Linked DNA regions of Homo sapiens. The protein of the gene in region 1 purifies or fractionates together with the protein of each later gene. This does not show direct contact. Each region holds a gene or a part of one and is shown on either strand. Other genes may lie near its edges.

Region 1 (3,809 bases):
CCCTTGTTTGGGGGCCAGAATGGTCCAACTACTTGGTGGACAGGGACAAGGAGAGAGAGAGGACTCGTGCATTGGGGAAGGTTGGGCCTGGGTGACTGTCCAGCTTGTAGTCTCTGATTCCCTCTGGCCAAATGGCAAAAATTACCTGAGCCACAGCCCGGCTCTACCACAGTTTTCCAGCCAAGGCTTGTGTCTTGCCTGGTTAACTGGCCTTGGATCCTTCGTGGGGCAGGACGGTGGAAGAGCTGAGAAGCAGGAGCAGAGGGCAGACAACAGACACCCAGCGGGCTCAGTTCTCCTCAGCACAGGGCCTGGTTGGCCGTAATCGTTCCTCGGCCCGTACTCGCCCAGACTCTGGCAGCCCCTGCTTCCCAGGCAGTTCAGACGGATCCAGGGAGTTGTGCAGTTGCCTGTAGACACTGAGTGTACAGTCTTCCCCTTCTTCCTCCTGTGCCAATAAATAACAAAAGTGAGCTGTGGAGGTCAGTAAAGTGAGGACCGAGACACCCTCACCTGCTACCATAGTGGGTCCTTTCCAACCCAGCAGAGGCAGATATAGCCCAGACAGGCCATAAGTTAACTGCAAAGATATGCTTTTGCCTGAGTATGGGCCAATATGTAAATTCCTTGGAAATCGGCAGACTGGGAACTCCAAGCTGCTGGGAACAATCAGGGTAGGCTAGGAGGAGGCTCACAACTCAACAGGAGCCTTACAGAGGATAGAGCCTGGAATGGGGGCATGGGACTAGCACCCCTGAGGAGGGGCCAGCAGTCTCCGAGTTCTGCACATGCATGCAGGCCGCATGATTCTGGGGATGAGGTCCACATCCTTGATGGGGAGCTGAAGAGAGGTCCGGACAGCTCTCTTCCTCCTTCCCACATACAAACTACCAAAAAGCTCACATTCCCGTCTCTCATCCTTTATCTCTCCTCTTAAATGTCCAAAGCTTCAGGGGCCCAAATAGCTGTCTTTCTCCCTACGCCTAGAATTCTACCTTTTTTTTTGAGACGAAGTCTCGCACTGTCTCCCGGGCTGGAGTGCAGTGGCGCAGTCTCAGCTCACTGCAACCTCCGTCTCCTGGGTTCAAGCGATTCTCCTGCCTCAGCCTCCCAAGTAGCTGGGATTACAAGCACGCACCACCACACCTGGCTTTTTTTTTTTTTCTTTTTTTGAGACGTCATTTCACTCTTGTTGCCCAGGCTGGAGTACAATGGTGCGATCTCGGCTCACTGCAACCTCCGCCTCCTGGGTTCAAGTGATTCTCCTGCCTCAGCCTCCTGAGTAGCTGCGATTACAGGCATGTGCCACCACACCCAGCTAATTTTGTATTTTTAGTAGAGACGGGGTTTCACTATATTGTCCAGGCTGGTCTTGAACTCCTGACCTTGTGATCCGCCTGCCTTGGCCTCCCAAAGTGCTGGGATTACAGGTGTGAGCCACCACGCCTGGCCAGAATTCTACCTTTTTAATATTCTCCTTGGTTCTCCCAAGCAAATGCAGATCAAAGAATAACATAGGCATGAGTAAGAAAGGTTAGAGTAGAAAGAGCATTGGATTTAGAGACAGGAATCTTGGATTCAAGTCTTCGCTCTTCCAGTAATTCTGCTGGGTGACCTTAGGTAAGATATTTTGTGTTTCTGACCCTTAGCTTCTACATCTGAAAAATGGGGATAATATCTGCCCCCAGGCAGATATTCAAGGGACTGAATAAGATAGTGGGTAGTGAAGTACTTTTGTCCAGTGTTAAGTACCCTGTAAAGAGTCACAGGGCTTTTCAAGTTAACAGAGTCATCTGCTTTTTTAAAGAAGGGAGCACTGTGTCCAGGTCCAAGAAGTTTTTCATCATCACAGGTTTCTCATCAAAAAGACACTCCCAGGGGCTTCTCCAGATGCTGTTCTGACACCCTGAGCCTCACACTCACATAAGGCAGGTGGTTCTGGATTTATCAAAGCTGTAATGAGCTATACTGAACCAGCCCTGCCCTCAGACTGATAATATGAGACAGACAGCTGTCTGGGGGGCAAAAGAAAGTGTCACTTGGAATTGGGTATACGCTTATCTAAAATAGGCCCAGTGTAAGCCCCGGCTCTCCTCATCCCTGAGAGGCCAGCAGCCTGTGAAGATCTGCTAACTGAGGCGGCCGAGAACTTGCTGACCTGGCTCCCCCTCACTGTGCCCTACAGAAAGGGCACCGGGCCTCCTCCTGTTGCCCAGAGCTCCCCATCAGCTGCAGCTGCTTCTTGTGCTTTTCATGCTGTTCTGAGGGCCTACGGGGAGCTCCTTTAGCTGCTCTGGCAAACCAAGGGAAGAGAAGACAGATTTCCTTTTTATGTCACCTTCATATACGAGAGCAAAATGAAGACAACAAATTGGAAAAGGGATTTTGGAAAGTGATGCTGCCAAAAACCTTCTTTAGGAGAAAGGTCAAACCCCCCTGATTTTTCAACAGTTCTCTAAGGAACCCAGTTCTACTCAGTTCTCAAGATCCTGGGTCACACAGGCCAGAGCAGAGGGGAAAAAGGAAAAGGCAAAGAAGGAAAAGGGAGGGAGAAAAGAGAGAGGGGAGAGAGGCTGGAACTCACCATGCTTGCTGAGTGGTTCCAGGCTGCGACAGTGATGGTGTCTCCTACCCGATTCCGACGGGTAAGCACCTCTGACACAGTGAGGCTACTTTGGGTCCTTCTGGAGGAGGGCTCAGGGGCATCCCCTGAACTTGGTCCTACCCTTCGAGTGCCCTGCTCAAAAAGGCAGGACCTGGGCTGTTCGAGTTCTGAGAAGTCTGTGGAAGACCTCTGGGTGTAGGCATTGCTATTGGTAGATTCCACGTTTTTACCTATTCGAGTTGGGGGGTCTTCTAAAGATTTCAAGTCTCGCCTACTCTTCCAGGCATTCCGCACAGTAACATGTCTGGCATCTGAGAAGCCCACTTCTGAAGGGGCACTATGGCTTTTCCACCTGATTGTCTCCGCTGGAGGTGCATGGCTATTCCTCTCCACAGGATCCGATGGCTTGATTATAATGCTGCTCCGAGAGACCACTGTTTCTGGCCTGTCCTTCAGGGGCCCATCTGCCATTCTCTCCGCTTCTGCAAGCTGCAGGGTGATGTCATGTTTGTGAATGGAGAGCTCAAAAGGGGAGCTGACATGGTTGCTAACTGATGTGAGCTCTGCCAGCCCCACCTGGATATTGCTAGTGGATGTGTGCCTCTCCCTCAGGGCCTCACCCGGAGCAGCTCTGGGGCTGCTGCTGTCAGATGGATATATAGTAATGCTACTTGTCACTTTGTTTGGCCCTGGTTTGGAGACGGGTTTCTGTTTCTCCAACGTAGTCTCTGTTCCAGATCCTCCCATGATTTTTTTCACATCCTTATCAACAATAACAGGTTTGATGATGGCTCTAGACCGCAACGCCTCTCTGGGGCTAAAGGGCCTTTGGCTTTTTACCCCAGCACCATTGGTATCTGGGAGCTCCATGGTATTGGTGGAGGCTCTGACAGATTTCACAGATTCATTCTCCATTCCAGCATCTTTATCATTCTCAAATAGGGAGGTTCTAGGTGCCCCTCGGGTTTTAGCCTTTTCTCTAGAGTTAGGCTGTGGTTTGGGCTCTGGCTCTGGAGTGATGGTTGTATTTACCAACTTGGCAGTAACAAGAGATGCTATGTCCAAGTCATCATCTGAGTCTGGCTTCTCTCTGCCACTGGATTTGATGACTCGACACCTCAAGGCTTCATGCGGACTGCTGTCTTCCATCACAACTGCTGCAGGTTGATTAACCCCTTCTTTATGTGAGGTTGAAAATCCCTGA
Region 2 (4,387 bases), on another chromosome or scaffold:
TGGGCCTGCTATCATGCCGGGCCATAAATTCTCAGATGCAGGTGCCATAAACCTTGGGCTGTGTCCCGAGGAAAGGCAGGCAGAGGGGACTGCCTGGCCCTATACCTGTGCCGCCGCTTCTTCCTCTTGCCCAAGGTGGGGGATGCCTTTAGGTCATTCCTGTCTTCAGACTGGCTGTCCTCATCTGATGGCACAGAAAGAAGAAGAGGACTTTAAGGGTGATCATATCCCCTCTATTTCCTGGATTTTAATGTGAGGATTGAAGTTATGAACCTCTTGGGTACTTAAGTAGTTTACAGTATGAGCCAGCATTTTTAGTGCCTACTAGATCCCAGGCTCTGTGCTTAACACTGTCCATACATTATCTCAAGTATTCTTAATATAATAATAAAACACCAAAATGGCTGCTGCTATTATTATCATCCTATTTTTACAGATGAGGAAACTGAGGCACCGAATGGTTAAGTAATTTGCCCAAAATCACACAGGTAGTAAATGGTGAAGTTGAGAATTCAAATCCCAGATTATCTGAAGCCAAAACTACTCAGCCACTGATTGCACTTTCTATCCCCACACTGCTTCCAAACACATCCACCCCTATGCCCCCAGCCTCATCATCTTAACCTCTACACCAACATTTCCCAAAGGAAGTCTGGGGCTTGTGACATCAGAACCCTCGTCAGAACTGCAACCCTTCCCTGATGCACCAAATCAGAATCTCTGGAGGTGGGATCTAGGAGGCTCATTCTTGACAAGTGTGCTCAGATGATGTGTAGTTGCCCTTGAAAATTTGAGAACCACTCCACTGTGCTTTACCTTTTTATATCCAATACATCAAAAAGTCTAGATGGAAAAGAAGGTTAGAAGGCCAAACTATTGTGAGATTCATTGCTAGAAGGCATAATTGCCTCAAAATATCTTTAAAATGAATAAAGGCAAAAATAACTAAATAATACTAGTTTTACTCATCCATCAATTAGTTCACCAGAAACCTGGCTTGGATTAAAACATTCTGTATTGGGCTGTCCAACCTGATGAGACATGAGACACATAAGGTTATTAAGCACATGAAATGTGGCCAGTAAGATCAAGACATGCTGTAAACATAAATCACTTAATGGAGTTAGAAGACTTAGTGCTCCTAAAAAGTAAAATATTTTTGTATTGATTATGTGTAAAATGATAATATTTGCTATCATTGTTGGGTTAAAATATAGTATTTAGATTCATTTCACTTTTAATGTGACTGTGAGAAATTTCCGTCAAACATGAAATCACATTTCATTTTTCTTGGACAGCTCTGCTCCAGACTTTCAGAAATGCTGGCAGAGTTGGATTTAGCTGCCTTTGGTTTTGTAAGAAAGAACCCATCCCATGAAAACAGTTTTGCATTTTTAGTGACACTAATAGGGAGTTTCATTTTATCTTACGTAGAGCTCATGAAATAAAGTCCTTTTAGAGTGGAGCAAAAACCTGCCTGCCTATTGATCTGACATGCTTCCTTTTAGTATCAGAAGACCCAGTCTACTCTTTTTGCCTTGGCTGCCTGGATGCTCAGCTCTAGATTCTACCACATACCATCCTTTCTTGTGTAATTCTTTCTTTTCTCTCCCACACCCAAAACCACTCGTTTCCTTAGCCCTTGTCCTTTATAGAATTTCATTGCTTCCTTCTCTTTCCCCGCGACCCGTCTGGATTTCTTTGGGGAAATGGGTAGGCCAGGAACACATCTCTAGGCGTAACTACAATGAATCCCCAAGGTTGCTTCTTTCTCCTGCACAGGGGACTGGGAGGACGCTGCGCCGGCAGAGGAGCGCGGTACCCGGGACTCCCTTTTCAGCACCCCAAGGGGCGGACAGTTCCAGGGCTCGAGGCCCCGTACTCTTCCAGGACCCGTCAATCATTCGATCATTTCCGCCCGCGTTTCCACCTGGTACCTTGTTCGGTGCTGCTGGTGACCACCACAGGCCCGGGCCTTCCCGACCCACGCAGCTGCCAGAGGCGGAGACTGGCGCCTGGCGCTGGGGGGAAAAATGGCCCTCTGGAGATGGTTGTTGAAGACCCCAGGGTCTCATCAAAAGGTTCCACCCGGAACCAGGTGGTGGCGGTCTCACATCGCTGAGGGAACAGGACCCCGGATGAGAGGCAGGGATTTAGGATGCAGCAAGGGGCAGGCGGCGCAGCTCCGCGAATGCCCCTCCCGCGACGGGGCCTCGCTCTGGGCTCCCCGCCTAGATCTGGGCCGCTGGGGCCAGGGGTGCGGTGGGGCGATGGTCTGTGACCCCTGCGCGGCTCAGAGCCTAGGGGACAGGGGCAGGAGCGGAAAGCGCGGGCCTGATTACCGGACGTGGAGACGCTGTCGCTGCGCTTCTGGCGGCCGAGCGCAGGCGGCGGACGGCTGGGAGCCAGCGGGGCAGCGGGCTCGGGGCCCCTGGGCGGCAGGAACGGCACGTCCGCTAGGAGCAGGCAGGGTGCTCGAGCGGCCGCCGGCGGCTGCGTGCCGAAGCCACAGAGGAGGCCGAGTCCCAGCGGTAGGGCCCCACGCGCCAGGCTGGAGCCGTCAAGCCCCGGGCCCGGGCACGGCGCGACTGCCGGACCCTCGCAGCCAGATCCCTGTCCTGGGCCAGCGGGCGCCGGCAGCTCGGCCTCCAAGCCCAGCAGGTCCGTGATGGCGAAGCCCCGGGGGCGCGAGCCCCTAGGGGAACCGCCAGGCACCAGCGCCCTGCTGCTAGTGCGCCCGTCGGAAAGCGAGTCCCGGCCGGTCATGGTTCCTTAGCAAGCAAGGCGCGAGCCTCTCTGGATCCCGTTTGCGGAGGGCCCAGCTTAGAGGAAGCTTTATAGGATTGGGCTGCCGGTCGGGCGCGGGAGGCCTGAAGGGCTCCAATCAGCTGGGCGCGGGCGCGTCGCCGTTCCGGACCCCGCGAGATGGGGACGCCACCAGTTCCCCTCCCCTCGGTTACCGCCCACCCAGCTGCAGTCCCCTCAGTCACCTCCTTCTCCTCCTCTCTTCTGTCCAGCCCACCCCACCCCACCCCACCCCCATTCTAGGAGGGAGGGGAGGAAAGAAGGTAAGGGACAGTGACTCCGCTGTCTGCCTGTCCCTCGAAAAGTCGCAAGTTCTACATCCTGGCGTGGCCTTCTCCTTCCTTCCAGACTCTCTGGGTGGAGGCCCCACTCCCAGCTGCCCTGAAGCTTCTTTGATGCGACCCAACTGCCTATTAAGACCTAGGACCCCATTCCCAACCACACCCCGATGGCTACCCCATATATGTCCCCAGCCAGCCCTCCACCTCCGCCGCCGGTGCCACGAAGGCCTTCCTGTAAGAAGGCCTTCTCTGAAAATCCCCAAGGGGAAAGGAATGAAAACCGTGTATTTAATCCATGGTCATCCTACCTCCATCCCTTTAATCCATGGTCATTCTACCTCCATCCAAATCCACCCCCAGGTCCATCCCCAACACTCCACGGGCTGAACTGTAGGGGGTGGCAGACTCACAAGAGCTGGGGAAAGGGAGAGAAGCAGAGAGAGGAGTGGACTGCCCGGGGCTGAGACGGGCAGGGTACCAGGTTTAACCAACAAAACACTGTCGGCTCAGTGAAATGTGATTTCAGATAAAAAAGGAGGGCTTTTTTTTTTTGTAGGAGTATGTATCAGTATTTTATCCAGCAACCCTAAATTGGGGAGGAGTGGAGGGAGGTAAATTGAAATAAAATAGAGTCTGTCTACTGGAAAGCACACCTTTTCATCGGGGCTTACAATTTATTGTCCAATTTCACGATTATTCAAAGAAAGCCTGATTCTTTGAATAATCAGTGAAACTCTGATATTCGCTAAAGTTGGCCCCAAGCACGTGGGTAAGTAACTACTGGTTCGCGCTTTGAACCCAACCAGCCCTCATCGCTCGGAGCCCTGCGTCCCCCGCTTCCCAATCCCAGAACCCCGGAAGCAGATCTCCTCAGTCCCACTCCCTGAGGGTCCTACAGTCCGAGGTCCCGCAGCGAGGGAGGAGCAAACGCCTGAGCTCCGCGGGAACCCGGCGCGGCTGCCTGCGCGCACGCAGGGACCGGAGCCCGAGCCTGGGCCCTGCAAAGTGGGTCTCCCACTCGCTGCGCGTTCGAGTGGGGCCTCCGCTAAACATGCAGATTAAACAAGGGGCTTCCGATAAGGATAATTACAGGAGGCTGCGCATTGACTTTCCGTTACTAAAGGAAGACCCAAATCTCCCCCTTGCAAGCTGTTCCCGGGATTACCAAAACAATCACTTTCTTTTGAGATCATTGTCTTTTGAACCACTCCAGCTCGGGGCAGAACGCTTTAGACGCTGGCGTTGTTTTCCGCTCCGCGAGGAATTTTCCCCCAGATTTATCTCTGGGTTTAGGGAAGGCG

Evidence for each region.
Region 2: the proteins of LUZP1 (region 1) and VSX1 purify together in Homo sapiens (co-immunoprecipitation; one large-scale study listed by IntAct). This does not show direct contact.

What each region holds. Positions count from the first base shown.
Region 1 is NC_000001.11:23,088,606-23,092,414, forward strand, and holds part of LUZP1 (leucine zipper protein 1), read right to left. Parts: coding exon 2,585-3,809; intron 449-2,584; coding exon 290-448; 3' UTR 1-289.
Region 2 is NC_000020.11:25,079,331-25,083,717, forward strand, and holds the start of VSX1 (visual system homeobox 1), read right to left. Parts: upstream 2,812-4,387; 5' UTR 2,767-2,811; coding exon 2,343-2,766; intron 2,002-2,342; exon of another isoform or gene 1,938-2,001; intron 185-1,937; coding exon 106-184; intron 1-105. UniProt on the Homo sapiens protein: Binds to the 37-bp core of the locus control region (LCR) of the red/green visual pigment gene cluster. May regulate the activity of the LCR and the cone opsin genes at earlier stages of development. Dispensable in early retinal development.